2 separate regions of the Homo sapiens genome follow, and region 2 is linked to region 1. A link means that fine-mapping ties the variant in region 1 to the expression of a gene that starts in the linked region. Tissue or cell type: prefrontal cortex. Region 1 holds a variant in brackets; the other region holds the start of a gene. All regions are shown on one strand. Distances are between the middles of the regions.

Region 1 (8,109 bases):
GAGGAGTTGCAAAGACGGGCTAGGCATCTTGAGAAAAAATTCCTGGAAAACCCAGGTAGGACTTAAGAATAATTAAAAAGTGGGCGAGATTGAAATATCGGTTAGAAATGAAGAGTAAGAAATAATTCTACAATCTCTCAGATACTGAAGTCTCTTATTTGACTTTCTAACCAGAGCAGCAGTTGTTACAATGATGCCTTACTAAAAGAAGGTAGATTATTTTAGAGATTGCTTAGGTAAAGGTCAGAATGTCCCAGTATACTGTTTTTTGTTTGTTTGTTTGTTTTGTTGTTTTGTTTTTGCTTTGAGACAGAGTCTTGCTCTGTCACCCAGGCTGAAGTGTAATGCTCGATCTCGGCTCACTGCAACCTCCGCCTCCCGGGTTTAAGTGATTTTCCTGCCTCAGCCTCTTCAGTAGCTGGGATTACAGGCGTGCACCACCACACCCGGCTACTTGTATTTTTAGTAGAGACGGGGTTTCATCATGGTGGCCAGGCTAGTCTCGAACTTCTGACCTCAGGTGATCCGCCCACCTTGGCCTCCCAAAGTGCTAGGATTACAGGCATGAACCACCGCGCCTGGCTACCAATATACTGTTAAAATCTAGATATTTATTTTTTTCTGCAAGTCCACTGGATTAGGACCTTCTAAGTTTTTATTCAGGTAAAATAAAGTCCCTGGATGGTCCCTGCCCAGTACTGAAACCCTCTTCTGGGATAAGAGGGTAAATATAATTCATCAAGTTAGTTTCATGATTGTGAGCTCCTTGACACTACCATTTATTCATCTTGCATTCCCTGCACACCTCACAGTACCTGGCTCACAGTAGTTCAGTAGATACTTGCTAAATAGTACTGAACTGAACAGTCATGAGACGTAGATTTTCAGATTTCTTTCCTCTCCATAGGAATAGTGGAGATCATCAAAACCTTAAATTTTGGAGAAGTGAAGAAATCCAAAAAATAATGTCCTTGGCCTACCCTTTAAAAAAAATTTTTTTTTTTTGAGACAGAGTCTTGCTCTGTTGCCCAGGCTATAGTGCAGTGGTGCGATCTCAGCTCACCACAACCTCTGCCTCCCGGTTTCAAGTGATTCTCCTGCCTCAGCTTCCCAAGTAGCTGGGAATACAGGTGCACGCCACCACGCCTGGCTAATTTTTGTATTTTTCGTAGAGAAAGGTTTTCACCATGTTGGTCAGGCTGTTCTCAAACTCCTGACCTCGTGATCCGCCTGCCTCAGCCTCCCAAAGTGCTGAGCTTACAGGCGTGAGCCACCGCACCCAGCTTACCCTTTAAATTTGTATCACACTTTCCTTTAATATAAAACAAACCTGTGGGACAGGATTGGTTAAGCTGAATAAACCATTCTTATAAATAAAATGCTATCTGATACAATCTGTTAGTGGTAGTTGTTACCGTTAATTCTTGCCTGAAACTTTTCTCTAGGTTTGTCGTCTCCCTTGAGCTTTAAGGCTTTTCTTAGGTGGAGTCGGGGAGGACTGGGTGGGCAGTATATTCAGATATTGGATCTGAGCCCTGTTCTCCCTAGGTCCTGACTTCCAGTCCTTGTTCTCACCACAGACTTATCTCAGACAGAGGAGAAACTTCGTGGAGCAGTGCTACACGCACTACGTAAAACTACCTACCATTGGCAAGAACTGAGGTAAGGGGGCCCAGAAGAGGTGCACAAGAAAGCAAAGGTAGACTTTAGAAAGAGAGTTGGGGGAGTACAATTACACAATCAATTTAGTATTTTCTTTTATATCACCTGACCTTAAAAGGATCAATTTAGTATTTGAAAAAGCTAAAGTACAAAGTTTTGAACACTGAAGTTTGAAAATTTAGTGTTTGTAAGTCTCCCCAGGACCCTTTTGTATTGGGGAGTGAAAGGCCTGAGCTGGAAGAGCCCTTTCCAAGATGTCATTTTCTAAATCTAGAAGGTAATTATGGGATTAAGGTTATTTACTAGTATGTACAACTCTGTGATTTTAATGGCAGCTACACTGAGGGACTGAGCCTGGTGTATATGGCAGCAAGACTGGATGGTGGCTTTGCAGCAGTCTCCAGAGCATTCCATGAGGTGAAAGTCCCTTAACTTCCAACCTGAACTTTTTGACCATCAGTTCCCTATTCATAAAGTAGTTTTCTAGGATGGGGATTCTTGGGACATTGCATATGCATTTTTTTTTTAAAGAGGATCTCCGCTGGACATAGTGGGCTCCTGCCTGCAGTCCCAACTGTTTGGGAGGCTGAGGCAGGAGGATTGCTTGAGCCAGTTTGAGGCTGCAGTGAGCTGTGATCTCCACTGTACTCCAGCCTGGTGACAGAGTGAGACCTCATCTCTTAAAAAAAACACAAAATAAAGACGTTCTCTTTATCCTGTGAAAGCTTTCTGTGACCCAAGAAAGGTTTAGAATCACTATTTTAGGAGATTCTTATCCCATAAGGTATTTGTATTGAATCTCAAAAGGCATTCACATCTCACATCCTCTGTGATAGCCTCCTAATTCACATTTATCAAGGTCCTAAATAAGTATCTAATTACCCTACTGTGGGATGTTGTATATTTCTTCAGATCCGGGCTCGAAATCCAGCATTTCAGCCACAAACTTTGATGGACTTTGGCTCAGGTACTGGTTCTGTCACCTGGTGAGTAACTTTCTTCAGCCCTATCTTGGTCAATTTTAGCTCTAGAAAGCCATACTTACACCACTCCAAAATTAACAGACTGGAAAACCAGAGGGAGAATAGGCAAGTTGGGAATCTATAATGTTTCTTCCATCAGATTAGGCAAGGCAGAAGAAGGTATATGGATTGGGGCCAGAACTTAAAAGAAATGTCAAGTAAAAAAAGGCGCATGTGTAGAAAAATTAAAAAGAAAAGGAATTATCAATCAAAGTTGTTTTTGCCTACAAATAGTATTTTGAGTCTACCTTTTTTTTTTCTTTTTTGAAACGGTGTCTCACTCTGTCGCCCAGGCTGGAGTGCAGTGGCACAATCTCGGCTCACTGCAGCCTCCACTCCTGGGTTCAAGTGATTCTCCTGCCTCACCCTCCCGAGTAGCTGGGACTACAGGTGCACGCCACCACACCCAGCTAATTTTTGTATTTTTAGTAGAGACGGGGTTTCACCATATTGGCCAGGCTGGTCTCTAACTCCTGACCTTGTGATCCGCCCACCTTGGCCTCCCAAAGTGCTGGGATTACAAGCATGAGCCACTGTGCCCAGCTGAGTCTACCTTTTTTTTTTTAGGAGTTGTAAATAAAACAAGAAAATAACACTATTAGTTATTTTATTACTAACTATACAACTACTTTAACATAACACTCTCTTTTCCCAGGGGTGGGGTTGGGTGTAAATGGGCCTCTTGTAGAGATGACTCTTGGTCATGGGAATTGGTGATTTATAATAATTTTGCCATCTTAGGGCTGCTCACAGTATTTGGGGCCAGAGCCTACGTGAATATATGTGTGTGGACAGATCAGCTGCCATGTTGGTTTTGGCAGAAAAACTACTGAAAGGTGAGTGCAAGAGCACTTCCAAAGTTGAGGGAGTTAAGAAAGCAAAGGGGTACTAGTAAAAGTGTTTTACTGGGAAGTAGAGAAGAGGGTAAAAATTAAGATGAATCTGGTTTACTTTTAAAGTTATAGTCAAGCAAAGGGTGGTATTAGAGGTTTCTGCTGGACTGAGGATGGGTTGGGTAAGAATCAAAGGACAGGAGGCCTAATATTCTCCCTGCCCTTTTTTTTTTTTTTTTAATTAGAGGTAGGGTCTCCATATGTTACCCAGGCTGGTCTCAAACTCCTGGCCTCAAGCCATCCTCCCACTTCAGCCTCTAGGGTAGCTGGGATTACAGGCACGCACCGCCATACCTGGCTCATCCCTGCCCTTTTTGATATACACTTTACCTATTCTTGGGGCCATGTTTCTTATCTGGATATCTCTTCAGTTTATACCTAACTTCCTACACACTCACAGTTGCCTCTTCTTTTCTCCACAGGTGGTTCAGAATCTGGGGAGCCTTATATTCCAGGTGTCTTTTTCAGACAGTTTCTACCTGTATCACCCAAGGCAAGTGGCAGTGTTTAGAATATTCTAAATGTGGAATGTGGCAGATGGAAAACTATGGCTTGAGCTTTGCAGCCCAGCACTGAGTGTTAGAAGATAAAAGAAATTTAGCGGCTAGGACTTTGTTGTATTCTTGGGATGTAGAGATGTTGAGTCTGTCATGTTCCTTGTCTTGGTCCTCAGGTGCAGTTTGATGTAGTAGTGTCAGCTTTTTCCTTAAGTGAACTGCCCAGCAAGGCTGACCGCACTGAGGTAGTTCAAACCTTATGGCGTAAGACAG[G/C]TCATTTCCTGGTGAGTTAAAATTCCTTGTTCTCCTTAAGTCTTGAAGCAGCTTCATGGATTTCATGCCTTTGCTCCTCTCATTGTCTTTATTCTTCACCATTTTTCTCCTTCATGGGTTTCTTTATCCCTCTTTGAGGGTCTCCATCCTGATTATGTAATGCCTATTTCTTTTTAGGACTCCTTCTCCCTCTATGATTGCTCTTACACAGCTACTGACATTTATACTTTCGTGTAATTCAAGTCTTCTGCATATTTTCCCCTTTTGTGAACAGGTACTGGTGGAGAATGGAACAAAAGCTGGGCACAGCCTTCTCATGGATGCCAGGGATCTGGTCCTTAAGGTAAGGCTTCTTCTTCCCTCACTCCCCCACCCATATGGCACCAATTACTGTTACTCTCTTGAAAACGAAAGAGACTGTCATGTATTGACAAGGGTGGCTCTCAGGAAACTGGGCGTATGAAGTCATTATGATACAGAGCAGTGGTTGGCAAATGAGAGCCTGTGGATCAAATCCGACCTGCCACCTGTTTTTATATAAGCCATGCTTATTTGTGCCTCTGTTGTCTGTGACTGCTTTCACACTACAAACAGCAGAGTTGAGTAGTTGGGACAGAGATAGATTTTGCCTACTCTCTGGCCCTTTAAAAGAAACTTTGCGGACTCCTAATCTAGGGCATTGCTGAGCTAAGAACCTTGTCACTGGGGGAGAGTATGAGCCAGTGTATAATCATAAATTTAATTGTCCTGGAGTGGGATTTTTTTGAGAGTGGAGGTTGCTGACAAGGGAGAGCACCGTACTATGTGCCAAGTTCTTGCCTTTCTCCTGCAGCAAAGAGAAAGTTCTTTGTTTGGAGTATTAAAGATGCAGCCAGCTTAATTCAAAGGACATAGTCAATCGTTATTAGAATTGAGTGTTAAAGGAGTCCTCAGTTTACTGAGTGCAGAGATTGAATTATGAAAATAGACCCTTGGCCCAGCTTTATTTCTTTTATTTCCTTTGATTTCAGGGAAAAGAGAAGTCACCTTTGGACCCTCGACCTGGTTTTGTCTTTGCCCCGGTGAGTATTACTTCTGCCTGTCCCACCACACGGATCTGAACTTAGGCGTGGCCGGGAAATGTAAGATGGTAAAGCTAAGCCACTCTCCACTACTTTGTGTTCCTATCCAGTTCCTACCTAATGATTCCCCTGGCTCTTCCTACCCACTGCTCCTGTCCTCCCTTCTCCCTGGCCCCTTTTGACTCTATTATTCTCAGTTTTTAAGTTTTGTGATTGATGGCTCTTTTGTCTTACCTCATTTTTTTATGTGTTCACAGTGTCCCCATGAACTCCCTTGTCCCCAGTTGACCAACCTGGCCTGTAGCTTCTCACAGGCGTACCATCCCATCCCCTTCAGCTGGGTAGGTACCTGGGGATATTGCAGCAGGAAGCAAACATCCTGGAAAAACAGGAAGAAAAAGAATCAGAGTTAGGAGGAGTTGGATAATTTGTAGAATAGCCTGGAGACTTTAGGGCCTACATGTATATGATTTATACATTGTAAAAAAGGACTGCAGGAATGGGGAAGAAGGGACTGTACAAACTTTTTTCCCATATCTTTTTCTTCTAAACAGTCTCTATGTTCCTTATCTTAGAACAAGAAACCAAAGGAAGAAAAGTTCTCTATGGTGATCCTTGCTCGGGGGTCTCCAGAGGAGGCTCATCGCTGGCCCCGTATCACTCAGCCTGTCCTTAAACGGCCTCGCCATGTGCATTGTCACTTGTGCTGTCCAGATGGGCACATGCAGCATGCTGTGCTCACAGCCCGCCGGCACGGCAGGTATGGGGGGTGTGACCAAAATCAGTGGGATGTGGCAGGAAGCTGCAGCCCACGCCAGCATCTGTTTCCACAGGGATTTGTATCGTTGTGCCCGTGTCAGCTCCTGGGGAGATCTTTTACCTGTGCTTACTCCGTCTGCGTTTCCTCCATCTACGGCTCAGGATCCCTCTGAGAGTTGATGAGGATGTGTAACAAGTATTTTCTTCTATCGTGCCTGCCAGGGCTGAAGCTGCCTGGTATCCAGGAGGGGAATGCTGGTATCCCCATATGTCTGTGTTTGTTTGAGATTTTTAATAATAAATAATAAATTTTTGAAGAATGGAAGTGGATTTTGTGATTCTTAAAAAGTGTAGAAGCTGGGCACGGTGGCATGTGTCTGCATTTCCAGCCACTCAGGAAGCTGAGGCAAGAGGATCACTTGAGCCCAGGTGTTAAGGCTACAGTGAACTTTGATTGTAACACTGCACTTCAGCATAGGTAACAGAGCAAGACGTCCTCCCTTAAAAAAAAAAAAAAAAAAAAAACATGTAAAAGGTATAGTTAATTATCCTGGCCTATCCTGTAATGAAGAGCTTCCTCAGATTTTTGGTGCCAGGCTTCCCACACAAATCTCAAGCTCGCCCTCTCCTATTGTGGCAGTTCAGAGCTCCATAAGCTCTTCGCTGTAATGATGAATGTGTAAGCTGATCATTAAAGCAGAAGTAGAAAAACCAGATTTCCATAAGCCCTTTGCTATAATGATGAATGTACAAGTTAAACATTAAAGCAGAAGCAAGAAAAATGGATAAGGAATCGGGGGAAACTGGTGCCTGAGTACGAAAGCCAGAATACAAAAAAAGCAAGCCCTTTAAAGCCCCACCTATACTTTCTCTACCTCAGATCTAGCTGAGTGATAAAAGCATTCCTGCACATACAACCCATCCCAGGACCAACTTAAGATTAAGAAACTTCTGTCTGCAAGTACTCACTCACTATGGTGGGATCAGCTGCAAAGCGAACTGTCCCATGCTCATGTTGATGGTTTTCTAGATACTGCCAACATGTTAGCTCTTTCTGGTGCCGATGAATTTCAAACGCGAACAGACACCCTTGATGTGGGTTTGCTAAGAAAATAGAAGAACAGGAAGAAAAGTTGCCAGGTTCAGACATCCCAGGGAAAAAGAAGCGTAAACAGCATTAGCAATCAGTGACTGATGATAATGCTGCAATAATGGGAATGGTTTTATTTCTAAATCAAATCGTTTATTGCTTTGTTTCTAAAAAACAAAAAAAAAACTTCTACCTGCAGACCCCTAGTTTAGATTAATTAGGAAACATTCCCGCAGGTAGTCATAGAGCTTGAATTGTATATAAAAGCTAAAGAAAAGCTTGTAACTTTGAGTTGGTCTGGTGTGCTACTCCGACCTCCCTGTAATCAGTTGCAGAAATAAACTCCCGTCTTTCCCAGTCTGTCTGTCTGCATCTCATTACCGGACCACAAGAACAAGCAGCAGGACCAGTAACACTGTAAGAATCATCCAGTAACACTGTAAGAATACTGCTTCTACCAGAGGCCAGGACTTCCCTAGGAAAATAATCTGGAGTAGCAAGGAAAGCTGCCTCCAGAGCTCTGAGAACTGGCTCAACAGGTCTCAGGGTTGTTATGTGGGCCACCTGAATAGGGGAATCAGCAGCTGCCTGGCCTCTTGTACTAACGCCTTCCCTTCTGTCTTTCCCAGGGTCCCTCAGCTACCCTAGAGTATGTATGGGAAATGCCCCAGACATTTCCATCAAGAGTGATTCCCATCAGAACTGAATCTTCTACCCCCACCTCTCTATATCCAGGTAGAATCCTCCCATTCACTCAGTTCATTTCTGTTTTCCCCTAAGCCTTGCTGTTTCAGGGCTAGAGCAGCTTCCTTTGTCTTAAACCTTAAATGTCTTTTTTTCCACAGTTCTTAC
Region 2 (8,109 bases), 690 kb before region 1:
CTGTCACACCAGGCAAAGCTTTTCTACTACAGGTCAAGCATCCCTAATGCAAAAATCTGAAATCCTCCAAAATCTGAAACTTTTGAAACGCTGACACCACAAGTAGAAAATTCCACACCTGACACACAGTCAAAATGCGGTCAAAACGTTGTTTCAGGCACAAAATTATTAAAAATATTGTATCAAATTACTTTCAGCCTATGTGTATAAAGTGTAAATGAAACAATTTTTTTTTTTTCTTTTTTAAAAGACAGGGTCACCAGGCGTGGTGGCTCATGCCTGTAATCCTAGCACTTTGGTAGTCCAAGGCAGACGGATCATGAAGAGATCGAAACCATCCTGGCCATCATGGTGAAACCCGGTCTCTACTAAAAATACAAAAATTAGCCAGGCATGGTGGCGCACACCTGTAGTCCCACCTACTCGGGAGGCTGAGGCAGGAGAATCGCTTGAACCTGGGAGGCAGAGGTTGCAGTGAGCCAAGATCATGCCACTGCCCTCCAGCCTGGCAACAGAGCAAGACTCCGTCTCAAAAAAAAAAAAAAAAGAGTCTCGTAGGTTGCCCAGGCTGGTCTCAAACTCCTGATTTCAAGCAATGCTCCCACCTCAGCCTCCCAAAGTGCTGGGACTACAGGCATAAGCCACCAAGTTTCATATTTAGATTTGGGTCCCATCCCCAAGTTATCTCATTATGTATATGCAGATATTCCAAAATTCAAAAAAATCCAAAATCCAAAAAACTTCGAGTCCTAAGCATTTCAGATAACAGATATCCTATTCTTTCCTGAAACTAAATAGATAGCAGCAGAAAGATATAATCACTTCCCTTCGAGTGTAATCAACAATCTTCACAACACATCCTGAATTCATCCACCTGTCTCCATCCCACTATGACCATTCCTGGATTACATCAGCTTCATTACTTGCCTGGACTGCAAGAGCTTCTTAACCAGTCATCTTGTTTCTGTTCTCTCCCATTCTCCTCACTGTAGTGGGAGTGATCTTATAAAAAACGTACATCATATCACAAACCTTCAAATAGTTTCCCATTGCAGACAGAATAAAATCCAAGTCCTTATCATGACCTAGAAGACTGTATGAGCTGACCTACCACCACCCATCCTGACACAAACTTCACCTCTCACCATTCTCTCTCCTACAATACTCAAGCCAGAGTTGCCTTCATGCAGTTTCTCAAACCCATCAAGCTCAGCCCACCTGGAAGACCTTATGCCTGGACACTTTCTCCAGATCTCTGCATAACTTATTCCTCATCATCATTTAGATCTTAGGTCAAATATCAATTCCAGAAAGGTTTTCCCTAATTACTCAACCCAAATGAATCCATTCCTTCTCTCCTCTACTGTTATATCATACTCTTATTTTTCTTCATACTTATTTAAAATCATGTGGCCTATCATTAATTGTCTATTGTCTGCCTCCACCACTGAAATGTAAGCTCCAGGATGGAAAGGCCTTTAATCTGTTTTGTTTCGAGCTACACCTGAGCACCAGAACGGGACTTGGGACATGATAGGCTCTAATTCACTACACTTGATTGAATTAACTAACTAACTATCCCTGTTCTAACAAATACATATGTGCTATACTTAATTTAAAATCCTATCCAGAATGAAGGGAACAGACTAGCACCCTCTGCAAATTTTATTGTATTATATCCAAGACCCAGCCTGCAGAGACTCTGATTTTAACAGTTTAGCAGAACTCAAAATTCTACATTTTTAACAGGCACCCCAGATGACTGTAATGAAACTGTCTGTAAAACACACTTTGAGAAATATCCATTTATACACTCTTTTTACACTAAAATGTCTTTAACAATGAAATCAAAGTTTACCACCATCTCCATGAACAGCAACACCATTATCTAATCCTTTTCCTCTTCTCTACTTCACTCCTTTATTCCATTCCTGCACCGACCCCACCCCAAGATAACGGAAGTATCCTCTCCCAAGCTGCTTAGGACATTTACCACAAATGAACCTAGGAAAAGACAATTCTCATAAAAAATTACAACCAATTTCCTTTTGTCCTGCAATCAACATGGCTGCAAATTAAGAGTTTTAGAGAAGGGCTTATTGATTGGTTTTAGTTGTTAAACCAAACATTCAAGAAGTTGTTTGGTTTTATTGTTTGGTTTTGTTTTCCTCTGGACTGAATGTTTTTAGAAACTTATTTTTTCATGGCAAAATCAATACATGTAAGTTGTTAAAATTCAAATAGATACATGTAAAAAAAAGAAAGTACAAAATTACCCCAAAGAACCTCAGTGATAACCACTGATTTGTATACCTTTTCAGATTTTTTTCTGTGCATATACAAACATATATACACAAATAATGTTTCTAATATAGAACCAGAATTGAGAATCTCTGATTTCAGCCAGTCACAGTTAGGGAATAAAATGAAGTTAATCCAAATCAGCTGGAACACTCTAAAAAGTGTTACTATTTTAATGTACCCAAGAACAAAGAAATTTCACCAGTATTTAAATTTGTGCGTTAAACACCTTTAGGCAAGTTACAAGCCTGTCATAGTTCTAATATTTAAGTTACAGGCTGCCTTAGAACGAAGAACTGAGTTCCTGAGGTGTAAGGAAAATCATGGGTTCTTAAAGGCAAAGAGCCAAGCAACTAGTTAACGCCTCCCTACCAAGTCCAAAAGACTAGTCTTACCTGTGGACTATGTGGAGTCTGGACCCCTCTGCATCAGACCCCAAAGTGGAATTACACAGGTTGAAAGAAATCAAAACTGAAATCCTAAGGGGAGTAACCAGGACACTTGCAGTGCAGGTCATTAGCGTGATTGTTGCCAAATTCAAAGCAGAAAGGTGTTAAATGGCTTTTGTAGGGATCAAAACAACATGTGACAGTAGTTCATGCAGATCTGCCACACACATGTATATGCTATTCGCTATGGATGAATCGAGAAAACAACGTCCTCTCTAAAAATGTACATGAACAGTTAGGAGCAACAAATCTTCTTCCATACAGGACTGAAATTAACCGCAGTCAGGTCGGCAGCAGGAGGTTCCAACGAGGCTCCCTGGCTGGCTGCGGCTGCACCCTCGAGGGTTGTTATAGTAACCACACAGACGCACGCAGCTTCGCGTGTGTGCCGAGGAATTCACGGGCAGTACATAAACTGGACTCCCTGCTTCATTCGGAGTAACAAAAACACATACAGAATTTAATCTACGGCCCCACCTGCAATTTCTGCAAGATCGGCTTGACTTCTTCCTCTTCATCAGCCATCATCTCCCGGCCACTCCACCCCCAACTTTATAACCACAGAGACGCACGCCCTCTCTCACCGCGGAACCACAGCGACATCTGGCGTTCTGGAGGCTTTTCTGCCCCAGAAGGGCTTTGCTTCAAACCGACTTAACCATTTATTTCCACAGAGATGCTCTACAATCACTTGTGAGTTCATAAACTTCTTTCTTTCCCAGATCCTGGAAACAAAATGTCCTCAGCTTAATTTCTATATTCTTGTTTCATGTCTTCCTACTTATTTATACTAAGATTATAATACTCCATAAAGAAGAGAGTTTAAGAAGTGCACACCTGTGTTGTTTGAAATTTCGAAAGCCATGTAGTACAATAGCTACTTTACTCAATCTTTTCCAAACTTTGCAGTAATTTTCTATGTATGATTAATTTTATCATTTTAATGCACTATCTTAATAAATACTACACTTGGGATGGCTCATAAAAACCACCATGCTCTACACTAACAATGCCTCCATATTTATAGACAACATCCAGAAGGATATATAAGAAAGGATGACTGTCTCTGCAGAGGGAAACACAGAAACTGGGGAACTGTGGGTGAGCGAAGAAAATTTTCACTGCCTGCCCTTTTGAATTTTCTTGCCATCTATATGTATCACCTATTCAAATATAAACATTTTTAAATAAAAAATTATTTGCTTCTACATAGTCTCTGGAAAGAGACACAAGACACTGGCAAGACTATCGCTTACAAAGAGCAGAAGTGAGTGGCTGGAGCAAAAATGAGTGACCAGGGAACTGGGGTAGACTTTTCACTCTATGCCTTTTTTGTAACTTTAAAGTTTGTACCTTGTGAATATATTAAACTTCTGAATAAATCTTTTAAAGTGTCATGTAATATTCCTGGCAGTTTTGCTTTACTTTTTTAGTTTTAATTACAGCTTCAAGCTGATTCTGTGAAACTAACAAAGAAGTAAAACGTTCAAGGCAGAAATCATGAATATACATAAAATCATTTCCTCAAATCATTTTCCAACATAAAGGAAATAGTTTGTATTGTAACCTATAAAATCTATGTCGTTAGCTGTAAAATAGGGAGGGATGTTTTAAAAATTTTTTTTTGAGATGGAGTCTCACTGTGTAGCCCAGGCTGGAGTGCAATGGCGCCATCTCGGCTCACTGCAACCTCGGCCTCCCAGGTTCAAGCGATTCTCCCGCCTCAGCCTCCCGAGTAGCTGGGGCTACAGGTGCATACCACCACGCCCGGCTAATTTTTTGTATTTTTAGTAGAGACGGGATTTCACCGTGTTAGCCAGGATGGTCTCGATCTCCTGACCTCATGATTCACCCGCCTCAGCTTCCCAAAGTGCTAGGATTACAGGCGTGAGCCACCACACCCGGCCCTAAAACTTTAAAATTTTTCATCCTCTTTCTCAGACATTTTAACTTTGGTGCACACGAGGCTGGGCACGGTGGCTCACACCTGTAATCCCAGCACTTTGGGAGGCCAAGGCGGGCAGATCACTTGAGGTCAGTTCAAGACAAGCCTGGCCAATGTGGTAAAACCCCATCTCTACTAAAGATACAAAAATTAGCCAGGTGTGGTGGCATGCACCTGTAATCCCAGCTACTTGGGAGGCCAAGACAGGAGAACCACTTGAACCCAGGAGGCAGAGGTTGCAGTGAGCCAAGATGCTGCCACTGCACTCCAGCCTGGGCAACACAGCAAGACTCCATCTCAAAAAAACAGTAATAAATAATTTTGGTGCACATTAAGAATAATTTTTAAGAGATTTTATACTCTATATTCCTAGTGAAGGAAACACTACTTGCTTTTCAATTATGTAAAGCAGGGGTATTTAATTGCCTTTCTACAATGACTAAATATATCTTCAAATGATTTCAGTATAATTTTTATTACCTAAAAAACAATGGGATTTGACATTTAGGGTAATTCCATTGTTAACACATCTTAAACCATTAAGAATCAATCCTAAAATTTAAGAGTTAGAAAAGGCTGTAAGGATAACTTAATTCAGTCCTTCATTTTACAGATACAGAGACTAAGTCCAAGAAAGTTCAAACTAAGTAGAAACCAGAACCCAGATCTTCTGCCTCTCCAGCCAGTATGCTTTCAAATCTTTCCTCTAACAGGACATAAAGTTACTGAGAATGTCCTTCAAATTTCTATCATGGCTCTACATTTTAAATAAATAAATGCATAAACAATTTAATTCCCATAATAATAGTCAGAAATACTCACTAAATAAAGGAAAACAATAAATAAATCTTTTATTTTAATACAATCTCGAGATCAATAACACATTGGTAAACTTTCTGCAGAAGTGCATTCCTAAATAAGTAAACCCAAGGCAATAGTTGACAAAAAGGTAAAGAAGTAGCTTTATTTTAAAATACAGTCTTCCTTTGGTATCTTTGGGGGATTGGTTCCAGGAACCCTCATGGATACCAAAATCCTTGGATGTTCATGTCACTTTTATAAAATGGCATGGTATTTGCATATAACCTACAGATTCTCCCAAATACTTTAAATCACCTCTAAATTATTTATAATACCTACAATGTAAATGCTATCCAAATAGTTGTTATATAGTATTGGTTTTTAATTTGTATTTTTTTATATTATTTTTTCTCAAATATTTTTGATATATGGTTGGCTGAATCTGCAGAAGCAGAACCTATGGATACAGAGCACCGACTGTAAATGCCAAAAAAATTAACTTTAAAAAATAACTTCATCAACGTGAGTTATTTTTAAATACAAATAGGGACTGAACATACATGCATCAAATTGTACTCTCGTTCACTGACATAAGCACACCTCCAAACAATACGAAGGTAAATACATAAATATATACAAATAAATACACACACCCAAATAACAAGCTACACATCACCCACCATTTTCCAAGACCAAAATTTTCACATAAACATACTGGCAAATACAGCAAAATATCAGTGTACATTAACATACTTACATATACAGATATGCATAAATACCAGAATTCAAAGCAACATGTAGCATATAACACAGGTACTTAAGGCATAAACACCACAGCTCAGTGAGAAACAGCACAGGGAGAAAGAGTTATCTATTGAAACAAATACTATTGTGACCTTCTCACACTAGGGATGAAAATTCAGCAGTTCACAATGGAATTGAGACTAATAAAATGCTTATGCTTTAAATAATAGAAACAAAGAAACCAGACTCTAAACCACTCCCCACTGCCAATGAGTTTGTTATGTTGATAATGTGAAAACAACTTCAGAGACTTAAAAGCACAGAGAAGCTGGGGAGTCCTATCTAGAAAAAAGATTTGCTACCCTGCCCCTGCCCCTGCCTCTGCCTCTGCCTCTCCCTCTCCCTCTCCCCTCTCCCCTCTCCCCTCTCCCCTCTCCCCTCTCCCTCTCGGTCTCCCTCTCCCTCTCTTTCCACTGTCTCCCTCTGATGCCGAGCCGAAACTGGACTGTACTGCTGCCATCTCGGTTCACTGCAACCTCCCTGCCTGATTCTCCTGCCTCAGCCTGCCGAGGGCCTGCGATTGCAGGCGCGCGCCACCACGCCTGACTGGTTTTCGTACTTTTTTGGTGGAGACGGGGTTTCACTGTGTTGGCCGGGCTGGTCTCCAGCTCCTAACCGCGAGTGATCCGCCAGCCTTGGCCTCCCGAGGTGCCGGGATTGCAGACGGAGTCTGGTTCACTCAGTGCTCAATGGTGCCCAGGCTGGAGTGCAGTGGCATGATCTCAGCTCGCTACAACCTCCATCTCCCAGCCGCCTGCCTTGGCCTCCCAAAGTGCCGAGATTGCAGCCTCTGCCCGGCCGCCACCCCGTCTGGGAAGTGAGGAGCGTCTCTGCCTGGCCGCCCATCGTCTGGGACGTGAGGAGCCCCTCTGCCTGGCTGCCCAGTCTGGAAAGTGAGGAGCGTCTCTGACCGGCCGCCATCCCATCTAGGAAGTGAGGAGCGCCTCTTCCTGGCAGCCATCCCGTCTGGGAAGTGAGGAGCGTCTCTGCCCGGCCGCCCATCGTCTGAGATGTGGGGAGCGCCTCTGCCCCGCCGCCCCGTCTGGGAGGTGAGGAGCGTCTCTGCCCAGCCGCCCCGTCTGAGAAGTGAGGAGACCCTCCGCCCAGCATCCGCCCCATCTGAGAAGTGAGGAGCCCCTCCGCCCGGCAGCCACCCCGTCTGGGAAGTGAGGAGCGTCTCCGCCCGGCAGCCGCCCCGTCCGGGAGGGAGGTGGGGGAGTCAGCCCCCCACCCGGCCAGACGCCCCGTCCGGGAGGTGAGGGGCGCCTCTGCCCAGCCGCCCCTACTGGGAAGTGAGGAGCCCCTCTGCCTGGCCAGCCACCCCGTCCAGGAGGGAGGTGGGGGAGTCAGCCCCCCGCCCGGCCAGCCGCCCCGTCCGGGAGGGAGGTGGGGGGGTCAGCCCCCCACCCGGCCAGCCGCCCCGTCCGGGAGGTGAGGGGCGCCTCTGCCCGGCCGCCCCTACTGGGAAGTGAGGAGCCCCTCTGCCCAGCCAGCCGCCCCGTCCGGGAGGGAGGTGGGGGGGTCAGCCCCCCGCCCGGCCAGCTGCCCCGTCCAGGAGGTGAGGGGCGCCTCTGCCCAGCCGCCCCTACTGGGAAGTGAGGAGCCCCTCTGCCCAGCCAGCCGCCCCGTCCGGGAGGGAGGTGGGGGGGCCAGCCCCCCGCCCGGCCAGCCGCCCCGTCCGGGAGGGAGGTGGGGGGGTCAGCCCCCCGCCCGGCCAGCCGCCCCGTCCGGGAGGTGAGGGGCGACTCTGCCCGGCCACCCCTACTAGGAAGTGAGGAGCCCCTCTGCCCAGCCACCACCTCGTCTGGG

The links. PIP is the estimated chance that this variant, and not a neighbour inherited with it, causes the effect.
Region 2: it holds the start of TTC5, and the variant in region 1 is fine-mapped to the expression of TTC5 in prefrontal cortex (CommonMind, PIP 0.95).

Annotation. Positions count from the first base shown.
Region 1 is chr14:20,990,544-20,998,652 of GRCh38, forward strand. It overlaps METTL17 (methyltransferase like 17), which reads left to right. Exons shown (of 14, transcript NM_022734.3): 3 at 1-55; 4 at 1,581-1,662; 5 at 1,998-2,079; 6 at 2,575-2,648; 7 at 3,426-3,520; 8 at 4,000-4,070; 9 at 4,251-4,358; 10 at 4,622-4,690; 11 at 5,358-5,408; 12 at 5,666-5,749; 13 at 5,984-6,168; 14 at 6,242-6,492. The coding sequence ends at 6,347. LOC101929718 (a long non-coding RNA gene) reads right to left here. Exons shown (of 4, transcript NR_110139.1): 2 at 7,137-7,271; 3 at 6,289-6,667; 4 at 5,294-5,787. Among named protein-coding and RNA genes, the nearest start is that of METTL17, 4.6 kb to the left of the region's middle. RefSeq lists enhancers at 1-13, 5,586-6,785. The variant G/C (reference allele first, on the strand shown) is at 4,348.
Region 2 is chr14:20,302,660-20,310,768 of GRCh38, forward strand. It overlaps TTC5 (tetratricopeptide repeat domain 5), which reads right to left and starts at 3,292. Exons shown (of 10, transcript NM_138376.3): 1 at 3,228-3,292. The coding sequence starts at 3,278. RefSeq lists an enhancer at 3,198-3,437 and a silencer at 6,218-6,418.